2 separate regions of the Homo sapiens genome follow, and region 2 is linked to region 1. Evidence: fine-mapped expression QTL. A gene starts in region 1. The other region holds a variant in brackets. All regions are shown on one strand. Distances are between the middles of the regions.

Region 1 (5,000 bases):
TAATCCCAGCACTTTGGGAGGCTGAGGCAGGTGGATCACCTGAGGTCAGGAGTTCGAGACCAGCCTGGCCAACATGGTGCAGCCCCGTCTCTACTAAAAATACAAAATTAGCTAGGCGTGGTGGCACATGCCTGTAATCCCAGCTACGCAGGAAGCTGAGGCAGAAGAATCACTTGAACCCGGGAGGCAGAGGTTGCGGTGAGCCGAGATCACGCCATTGCACTCCAGCCTGGGCAACGAGAGCGAAACTCCATCTCAAAAAAACAAACAAAACAGCAACAACAACAAAAACAAATTAGCTGGGCGCGGTGATGGGCTCCTGTAATCCCAGCTACTTAGGAGGCTGAGGCAGGAGAATTGCTTGAACCTGGGTGGCGGAGGTTGCAGTGAGCTGAGATCACACCACTGCACTCCAGCCTGGGCGACAGAGTGAGACTCTGTCTCAAAAAACAAACAAACAAACAAACAAAAAAACCTGCCAGTTGTGACTATGCCCCTATCCCTCATGGCTTCAACAGAACCTGCCACTTTAAAGTCAACAAAATCACCTTTATCAATGTTTAAGTCACATAACCAGCATAATTAGTCAGAGGTTTCTGCTACTTTATTTCAATCTATAGTTGATGTGCATTGTGGAAAATCTGTGCTTATAAATACTAGCCATAACAAAATATTAGAAGCTGAGAGTCTCTGGGAGATGCAACTGGCTTTTTAATGCACGTCTCCATCCCTCACCACAGAAGTACACAGCTATCCTTTTCTTAGATCTCTTCAGGGGAGATCTATCCCTCTTTTCTTCATTGCATTATCTCTAAACCTTACAGGAGGAAAAGGTGCCTACCTGACATCTGTGACATCTCTTCTCATGCTCTTGGGAAAAAAGCTTTTGGAATTTGGACACAGCTATTAAGTTACTCCTCAGTGGCCAGCCGCGATGGCTCACGCCTGTAATCTCAGCCCTTTGGGAGGCCGAGGCGGGCGGATCACGAGGTCAGGAGATCGAGGCCATCCTGGCTAACACGGTGAAACCCCGTCTCTACTAAAAATACAAAAAATTAGCCGGGCGTGGTGGCGGGAGCCTGTAGTGCCAGCTACTCGGGAGGCTGAGGCAGGAGAATGGCGTAAACCCAGCAGACAGAGCTTGCAGTGAGCTGGGATGGCGCCACTGCACTCCAGCCTGGGCGACGGAGCGAGACTCCGTCTCAAAAAAAAAAAAAAAAAAAAAGTTACTCCTTAATTTGTTGAATCTTTGTGCCAAAAGGAGCTGAACCAGTGTAGGTGGAGACAAAGGAAGCAGCATAAATGTCTAACTTATAACTCCCCAGGAAAACGAGAAGAGGAAAAATGAGACACTCCGGTCCCGCTCTGTTCCTCATCCCCCGTTTACAAACCTTACACCTGGCCCACACTCAGTAACAACAAAGACATCTATCACTTTCAGGCCGAGGTCCTGTCTCCAAAATTACTGGCCTCTGCTCACAGTTCTTAAAAGTTTGCTGAGAAAAAAAAAAAGAAAGAAAGAAAGAAAGAAATGTTCCTGGGCTGCAGTCGTGTAGCCCCAGGATGGGTTTACAGGAGGATGCCCCGGTTAAGCCCTGTGCCGCCCCCACCTCCCGCTGGAGACTCACACACAGCTCCCCGCCAGTCCCACCGGTGACAGCCACACAAAGGCAGGGTCACAAGCACACCGACCACCCCACAGCCCAGATTCGGCCCCAGACACACACTCACAAGGGCACGTGATCACGTGCGTGGTCACATGGACCGGCCCACTCAGAACACACTCACAAAGTCACACCAACCAAGGCAGCCACGCGCCACACACACACACCTACAACCCCGCATACCGCACACCCAGCCGCTTCCCAGGGCTTCGCCCACCCTCACCTGCCGTGGCCGCCCCCACGTCCCTTCCCCTCCTTCAGGAGGCCGCTCTTCGCTCCAGTACGAGCGCGGGCCGTGGAGGCGGCTGGGCCCGGGTCGGGGCGGGCGGCGGAGCACTCGGGACCCACGGGCACAGCAGGCTGCGCGGTGCGTGCGGGAGGCCGGCCTCTGAGGGGGCGGGGCGCGTGGCCGAGCGAGCTTGGGCCGCCGCGCTCCCCCCGCCCGACCGCCGCTCAGCTGGCGCGAGACTCCCGCTTCCGGGTTCTCAGAGGGCGGGGCCACGTCGCGAGGAAGGGGCGGTGCTGCGTGGCCCCGGCGGTCGCCACGGCGACGGGCGCGGGGGGAGGCTCCGTGGGATGCTTGGCTGCGGCTGGCGTGAGGAGAGGGCTGAGTTACGTCTGGGTCAGCCTTAGTTCTGCCCTACGTACCTAGGAGGAGGAGGAGGTGGAGGAGGCGCCTGGCCCCTTGGGACCTGCTTCTTCTTTCAGTTCGCGTTTTCTCTGTCGTGTACAGCTTTGGAGGGACACCTTTGGGTTCCAGACTTTGATGAACACAACTTTGTATACTCTTTTCTTAGGAACATTTTTTTTCCTTTGGCACAACCGTAGACGCTCTCCGTAGTCCTCCACTCAAAGCCTCCGCTTCCTTTTTGACGTTCTGGGGATTTCTGGGAACATACGCCCACCCATCTTCCTGTTCCTTCATCACTTTTCCCTTAAAATCAGAGAGAATATTAATACATTTGTAATCATTGTTCTTAAGGTGTTGCAGACGTCACGTCTTAAGGTGTTCCAGACTTCACGACTCCTTTTTTATTAGTAAAATATTTCTGAAATTATGATAAGGTGAATAACATGTAAATCTCCTTGTTTTGAATTTTTTTTTTAGGGATCCTGCAACAAGGTCCTGTTGAAAGTGCCTCTCTCTAATATGTTTTAGGGAAAGCTTGTACCCTGTTTTAGGGCCTGTAGACTTTGCCTTTACCTAGGCAACTGTTTATGGGATTAAGGTCAGGGAAGATTCCAACTAAATTGCATCCTACTTAGTTATCACTTCTGTCCCCTGGCCCAGGAGCCTTGGGTTCCACTCTAGAACTTGGACAAATCCCAAAAGCATTTTCCAAAAGCACGGTGACATACTTACCTTTTTCTTTCTTTCTTTTTTTCTCTAAATCATTTCTTTCGGGGTTGCAACTCAGTCGCAGGAATTCATCTTTTATTGTAAGCACCACATAGATGTATAGAGCACGTTTCCGTGGAGTATTTTAAGTTGGGGGCCTTTTCTCCAACATTTGGAATCGTTTAATGGGTGGAATAACTTGCAAACTACTGGTTGTCTCTGAAACTGGTTATGGATATTCATTACATTAGTTGTCTATTTTCCCAGGTGGTCTCGAAGCTTCAATCTAGAGCAAAGGGAATAGAGTGATTCCACCAGTCCATTAGCACATGATTAGCCCATAAATAATAGGTACTAAATGTATATTGATTGTAATCCCAGCACTTTGGGAGGCCAAGGTGGACGGATCGCTTGATTGAGCCCAGGAGTTCGAGACTAGCCTGGGCAACCTGGGAGACCCTGTCTGTACAAAAAAATACAAAAATTAGCCGGGCGTGGTGGCGCATGCCTGTAATCCCCGCTACTCAGGAGGCTGAGATGGGAGAATCTGTTAAGCCCAGATGTCGAATCCACTGCACCACATCCTAGGTGACAAAGCGAGAGACCTTGTCTGCTCCCAACAAAAAACTATATTGAATGAATTAATGAGTGGAATAAATAAATCTATCCCCATTTCCACATTTGTTCCTAAAGCTGTATTCCTTAGACCCCATCCCTAGACCCCATTTAGTAACAGCTTTAATGAGACCTAATCTATGGATATACCCGTATGTTAAAAGTCATTGTTCTGTTAGTGTGGTAGTAAACTTTGACAATTGACAATAAAAAAAAATCACTATGTAGATATGTTTTGTTACATATCAACTTTTATTACAATGTAGACCAATCCAAAAATAATAAATGTTTTACTTCTTTCAGGAAGGGAAACCATGGTCATGTTTGTGTCCTCAGTTGTTCCATAACACATGGCAAGCACATTGTCCCTTTCCTAATCCCAACAAAGAACATTTAATATCTGTGAATTCCAGCTGAATTGTAATGCACAAATTCAGGCAGCAAACTTTTGATTCAGGCAGGTCCCAGTGCAGGCTGACCTGGTAGACATGGCTGTAAGGATTTGCAGCTGTTGTGGCTGGGGTCTGCCAGATGGTTCCCACAGCACCAATTCATCTGTGAGAATCTCACAGAAAAACTGGAATGTTCACAAAATATGCTGTGAACACCAAGCAAAGTAAACAGATGGCCAGCTGGCTCTCAGAATTACCCAAACCCGGGCTCTGTCCCTCTTAATTTATCTTTTCACAGGATAATATTTGTTTGAAAACACACAAAATAATCCCAGATCCAGAAATATCCCTATGCATGTGTATACATAAGTGAATGCACTTTTTTTTTTTTTTGAGACGGAGTCTTGCTCTGTTGCCAGGCTGGATTGCAGTGGCACATCTCAGCTCATTGCAACCTCCGCCTCCCGGATTCAAGCTATTCTCCTGCCTCAGCCTCCCGAGTAGCTGGGTCTACAGGTGCCTGCCACCACACCCAGCTAATTTTTGTATTTTTAGTAGAGACGGGGTTTCACCATGTTGGCCAGGATGGTCTCGATCTCTTGACTTCGTGATCCTCCCGCCTCGGCCTCCCAAAGTGCTGGGATTACAGGCGTGAGCCACTGCGCCCAGCTGTGAATGCACTTTTTAAAATGTTTGGAGAGGTATGTACCAAGCAGCTAAGTGATTACCTCGGAGGAGGAACTGGGGATGGAGGGAGTGGTGAAGAACTTTGACTTTGGATTTAATAGTTGAGTTTATATTAAAATGTATTCATATATTATCTGTGTGATCAAAATAATTAAAAGCAGCCAGGCATAGTGGCTCATACCTGTAATCCCAGCACTGAGGGAAGCCAAGGCGGGTGGATCACTTGAGGTCAGGAGTTCGAGACCAGCCTGGCCAACATGGCAAAACCCCCATCTCTACTAAAAATACAAAAATTAGCCGGGT
Region 2 (5,526 bases), 23 kb before region 1:
GTATACTGCCTTCTATAAAAAGTTTGGTAGGAAAACATCACCATAGTGGACAAATGTTTTATACTTCTAAAATTTACAGACTAAGACATACTAAATAGAGAAAAGTCAAACAATTTTTTGAAACCACATTTGGGATCTTTGTTCCTCACTCCCTGAGCAGTCTCCCTGAGTCCCTGCAGAGTCTCCTGAGACATCTTAGATGGTGCATGCTCATGAGATGTTTACCCTTCCCTTCTGCTGCTGTGAGTTAGGTCCTTCCAATCTTCTGCTACTGTGACTAGTGCTGCTATGATGAATATCTCTGGGCATCAAGTATTCCTGTTTAGGATCCTGTCTTCTATAAGGGGATGACAGGATCAAGGGATATGACTGGTTTTTGGGATTACAGGTGTGAGCCACCATGCGTGGCCAGGATATAACTGGTTTTTTAAGGCTCTTGATTCATCTTGCCAAACTGCCAGGGCACTCACCCCTCACTGCTATTCTATTATCCATTTAGTTAGAGTATGAAGGGATGGTGTTTGTTAGGGCTTTCTTTTCTTTTCTTTTTTTTTGAGACGGAGTCTTGTTCTGTTGCCCAGGCTGGAGTGCAATGGCGTGACCTCGGCTCACTGCAACCTCTGCCTCCAGGATTCAAGTGATTCTTCTGCCTCAGCCTCCCGAGTAGCTGGGACTACAGGTGTGCACCACCACGTCCAGCTAATTTTTTTTGTATTTTTAGTAGAGACGGTTTCACCATATTGGCCAGGCTGGTCTTGACCTCCTGACCTTGTGATCTGCCTGCCTCAGCCTCGCAAAGTGCTGAGATTACAGGCATGAGCCACTACGCCTGGTAGGGTTTTCTTTTAATGCATTAAAATTAGATCAAGAAGTCACTTCACAGGACTCAGATTGACCCCATTTAGGTCTGGTGTCTTGCTCTGATGGAATTCACTGTGTCCAGAGGGCAAGGTCACATCATACCAATAGTAACCTCAGTGTGTGAATGCAGGCCTGCTGTCCTTAGAAAAGGGATGGTGGCCAGAGAGTCACTGGGGGATCTCTAATATACCTGTTCAAATTCTCCTACAAGTTATAAATGTAAACCACTTTTATCAAGTCAATGCCTCATTTCTACAAGGAATTCTGTAGTTCACTGATTCCCTAACTAGTCCATTAAAAGAAGTCTTTATGTTGCAAACATATGTTGGGCTCAGAGTGCTCTGGGTTTCAAGCTAGGCCTTACCTGTACATAAAGATTGACCTCTGCACTTCTGCACAGGTATGGGAAATTGCCTCCTGTTTTCAGATGAGCTCTTCGGGCATTAGGATACAGCTTGTACATTTCTTCTTTAGCTTCAGTTGAAAGCGCACTCTGATCAAACACCTTTAAAAAACACAAAGCTTCAGCACCATAGGAAAGGTAAAACACACACACACATACAGAAAGCTGTAATCAACTAGTGTTTTAATATGTTCTTTTCACATTATGGAAATGTTACCCTAAGTATTCCTTTCATATGAAGACAATCCTGAACCCCCAGCAGCCTGAACTACCTCCACTGCTGATCCCTGGTGACTTATAACTCCAACCGAAGACATTAGCTACAGATTTTGCTGCACAGCATCTCCTGCATTCTTTTGGTGGGGGGAAATTCTTTTTTTTTTTTTGAGGTAGAGTGCAGTGGTGTGATCTCGGCTCACTGCAATCTCCACCTCCTGGGCTCAAGTGATTCTCCTGCCTCAGCCTCCTAAGTACCTGGGACTACAGGCATGCGCCATCACGCCTGGCTAATTTTTGCATTTTTAGTAGAGATGGGGTTTCACCATGTTGGCCAGGCTGGTCTCAAACTCCTGACCTCAGGTGATCTGCCCACCTCGGCCTCCCAAAGTGCTGGGATTACAGGCGTGAGCCACCAAGCCCGGCTGGGGTCGGGGGAAATTCTACCATGAATTTCCTTTTTCCTCAAATATAGCTAAGTAGATTAACAGAATATTAATAGAGAACAATCATTGCAAATGTCAATAAGTTTCAAAAAGATCACGAAGCCCCAAAAGAACTTTTTACTTTTATCATTAATTTAAAGCAATAAACTAAGTCATTTAGGCTCAGTGAAAAAAATTCCAAAAAAATGTAGAGTACAAGCTATTCTTTCTTGGGGAAACCAGTTTGCAGCATATGATTCTAGACATCCTTCAATACCCATACACATTTACGTTTTTACATGCAACAAAATTTTTCAAAAAGTAAAATAAGCAAAAAAAATTGTATACTAAATATACCATACCAAATCTGTATGTTTAAGTGCATCTCCAACTAAAACTTACAGGCTGTTTTCAGTGACCATGAACCCAGGCAGTGAGCACAGCTTTGAAAGAAGGGCAGGCAGAGCAAATGTCCTGTGAGGACCATTGAAAAGCTTGTTCTATGTTATGGCAAATGTCAGAATGCAGCGATTATGGCAGAGGATGATAAGAAGTTGTTTACACGCTTATAATGAATAATTTCCCAACAAAAACCAATTATTAAAAATACCATATTATGGCCAGGTGCGGTGGCTCACACCTGTAATCCCAGCACTTTGGGAGGCTGAGGC[G/A]GGCAGATCATGAGGTCAGGAGATCGAGACCATCCTGGCTAACATGGTGAAACCCTGCCTCTACTAAAAATACAAAAAATTAGCTGGGCGTGGTGGTGGGTGCCTGTAGTCCCAGCTACTTGGGAGGCTGAGGCAGGAGAATGGCGTCAACCCAGGAGGCGGAGCTTGCAGTGAGCCAAGATCGCGCCACTGCACTCCAGCCTAGGCAACTGAGTGAGACTTTGTCTCAAAAAAACAAAAACAAAAACAAAAACAAAAAACCATATTATTTGAATTTAGGAACAAATCCATTTATAAGGCAAAATAATCATATGATTTTTTTTTAAGTAAATTGAAACCATAGTGAGATACCAATTCATATCCATTAGGATAAGTATCAACCAAAAAACCAGAAATAAGGGTCCAGGATATAGAGAAACTGGAATCTTTGTGCATTGTTGGTGGGAACATGAAATGGTATAGCCACTGTGGAAGACAGTATGGTGGTACTTCAAAAAGTGTGATTCTACTTCAAACGATATGTCCAAAAGAATTAAAAGTAGGATACATCTACTATGTACCCATAAAAATAAAAAACAAAAAATTATTTTTAAAAAATAATTTAAAAATAAATAAAAAAAAATTAAAAGCAGGAACTCAAACAAATATACATATATTTTTTGACAGGTTCTCACTCTGTTGCCCAGGCTGGAACGCAGTGGCATGATCATGGCTCACCCCAGGCTCAGGTGATCCTCCCACCTCAACCTCCCAAGTAGCTGGGATCACAGGGATGTGGCACCATGTCCAGCTAATTTTCCTTTTTTTTTTTTTCTTTTTTTTGAGACGAAGTCTCACTCTATTGGCAGGCTGGAATGCAGTGGTGCGATCTCAGCTCACTGCAACCTCCACCGCCCAGATTCAAGCAATTCTCCTGCCTCAGCCTCCCGAATAGCTGGGACTACAGGTGTGTGCCACCATGCCCGGCTAATTTTTGTATTTTCAGTAGAGACGGGTTTCACCACGTTGGCCAGGATGGTCTCGATCTCTTGACCTCATGATCCACCCGCCTTGGCCTCCCAAAGTTCTGGGATTACAGGGGTGAGCCACCGCGCCCGGCCTAATTTTCTTTATTAGTAGTAGAGACAGGGTCTCCTGTATTGCCCAGACTGGTCTCGAATTCCTGGGCTCAAGCAATCCTCTTGAGTCAGCCTCCCAAAGTGCTGGGATTGCAGGAATGAGCCACTGTGCCCTGCCCAAACATATACTTTTACACCAATGTTCATAGAAGCACTATTCACAATTGCCAAAAGCTGAACACAACCCAAGTGACCACTGACGGATGAATGGATAAACAAAATGTGGTATAAACCAACATTGGTTTTATTGGTAGATATTATTCAGCTTTAAAAAGAAATAGGCTGGGCGTGGTGGCTCATGCCTGTCATAGCACTTTGGGAGGCCCAGGCAGGCAGACAGCTTGAGTCCCAGAGTTTGAGTCCAGCATGGGCAACATGGTGAAACCCCATCTCTACAAAAAATTAGCCGAACGTAGTGGTGTGAGCCTGTGGTCCAAGCTACTAAGGAGGCTGAGGAGGGAGGATTGTTTGGGCCCGGGAGGCAGAGGTTGCAGTGAGCTGAGATTGCACCACTGCACTCCAGCCTGGGGAACAGAGTGAGACCCTGTTTCCAAAAAAAAAAAAAAAAAAAGAAAGAAATGACATTCTGACACATGTATAACATTTCAAGATAAGTCTTGTGAAACATTATGCTAAGTGAAATGGCCACACAAAAGGATAAATGTTGTATGATTCTACTTATATGAGGTTCTAGAATAGGTAAATTTTTATAGACAGAAAATAAAACCGTTGATTATCAGAGGCCGGGGGAAGAAAGGGAACAGGAGTTATTGTTTAATGGGTATGCAATTTCTTCTTGGAATGATGAAAATGTTGTGAAAATGGTGATGGTTGCCGAACTGTGAATATACTTAATGCCACTGAACTATGCACTTAAAAATGGTTAAAATGGCATATTTTAAATGTACATTTTACCACAATAAAAAAATAAGCAAGCTTTTGTGGTAATTAAACTATGGAATTCTTGATTCTCTACCCTTGTTACCCTTGTGAAGCACCTTCTCTTTGCTGCCCATATATGTGCAATATATGGTGCAATATCTATTGATGAGAACAGCAAAAATACATCAAATGGGTAGACTCCCTTGTTTAAATTTATTTTGATTCATTTTTATTTTTATTTTTTTTTAATAAATACAGACAGGGTCTCACTATGTTGCCCAGGCTGGTCCTGAACTCTTGGACTCAAGCAATCCTCCTGCCTCAGCCTCCCAAAGCGCTGGGATTACAGGCATAAGCCACTGTGCTCGGCCTATTTTGATTTCAATGGTGTTATTCCTGCCAGAAAGAAATCCAAGATAAGCAATAAACAGATTATTTTGGAATTGAGAAAGCTGGAGGGTAAAAACAAAAGCCAAGGCAGCATTTGAAGAGGTACATTGAAAGTTATCAAATAGTTTTATAGGAGATCTTGACATACACATTTTAAAAAGTAAAGCAGCTATTTTACTTAAAAGGAAGCTTACATCCATAATAGTTACAGGTATGTCCCGAATTTTATGAGGTTCCACATAAGAATTTTGACAATTCAAGGTAAGTCTTGAAGCCAGTTCACTCTGACCCAAACTTTCTAGCTGCAGGAAGAAACACAGGTAAAGTTTTTGAAATAATTTTGTTTTTCACATTTACATTAAATCCACAGACAACATTTGTGCTTATAAAGGTGGTATCATCTGTGGTGGGGCCAGAAAAGTCATCAGTGAGGAACCACAACTTAGGTGAGAGACCATGAACTGGGCTTCTCAGGAGGTTGTGGCATTTTTCTATTCTGGAAACCTGGGTACAAACCAATGAAACCCGGCCTTCTACAGCCCTCAGCCTACACTGCCTAC

Alleles and levels. Positions count from the first base shown, and alleles are read on the strand shown. Sizes are in standard deviations (SD) of each study's normalised expression.
With allele G in place of A in region 2, the expression in tibial artery of the gene that starts at base 2,137 in region 1 is lower (moderate effect, 0.67 SD a copy in GTEx).

What was found. PIP is the estimated chance that this variant, and not a neighbour inherited with it, causes the effect.
Region 2: its variant is fine-mapped to the expression of SPG21 in tibial artery (GTEx, PIP 0.93).

What each region holds. Positions count from the first base shown.
Region 1 is chr15:64,987,778-64,992,777 of GRCh38, forward strand. SPG21 (SPG21 abhydrolase domain containing, maspardin) reads right to left here and starts at 2,137. Exons shown (of 9, transcript NM_016630.7): 1 at 1,888-2,137. RefSeq lists enhancers at 1,344-1,845, 1,846-2,345, 2,401-2,470, 2,511-2,570 and silencers at 1,574-1,868, 1,671-1,720, 1,841-2,330.
Region 2 is chr15:64,964,095-64,969,620 of GRCh38, forward strand. It overlaps SPG21 (SPG21 abhydrolase domain containing, maspardin), which reads right to left. Exons shown (of 9, transcript NM_016630.7): 7 at 5,161-5,268; 8 at 1,226-1,366. Among named protein-coding and RNA genes, the nearest start is that of SPG21, 23 kb to the right of the region's middle. The variant G/A (reference allele first, on the strand shown) is at 2,577.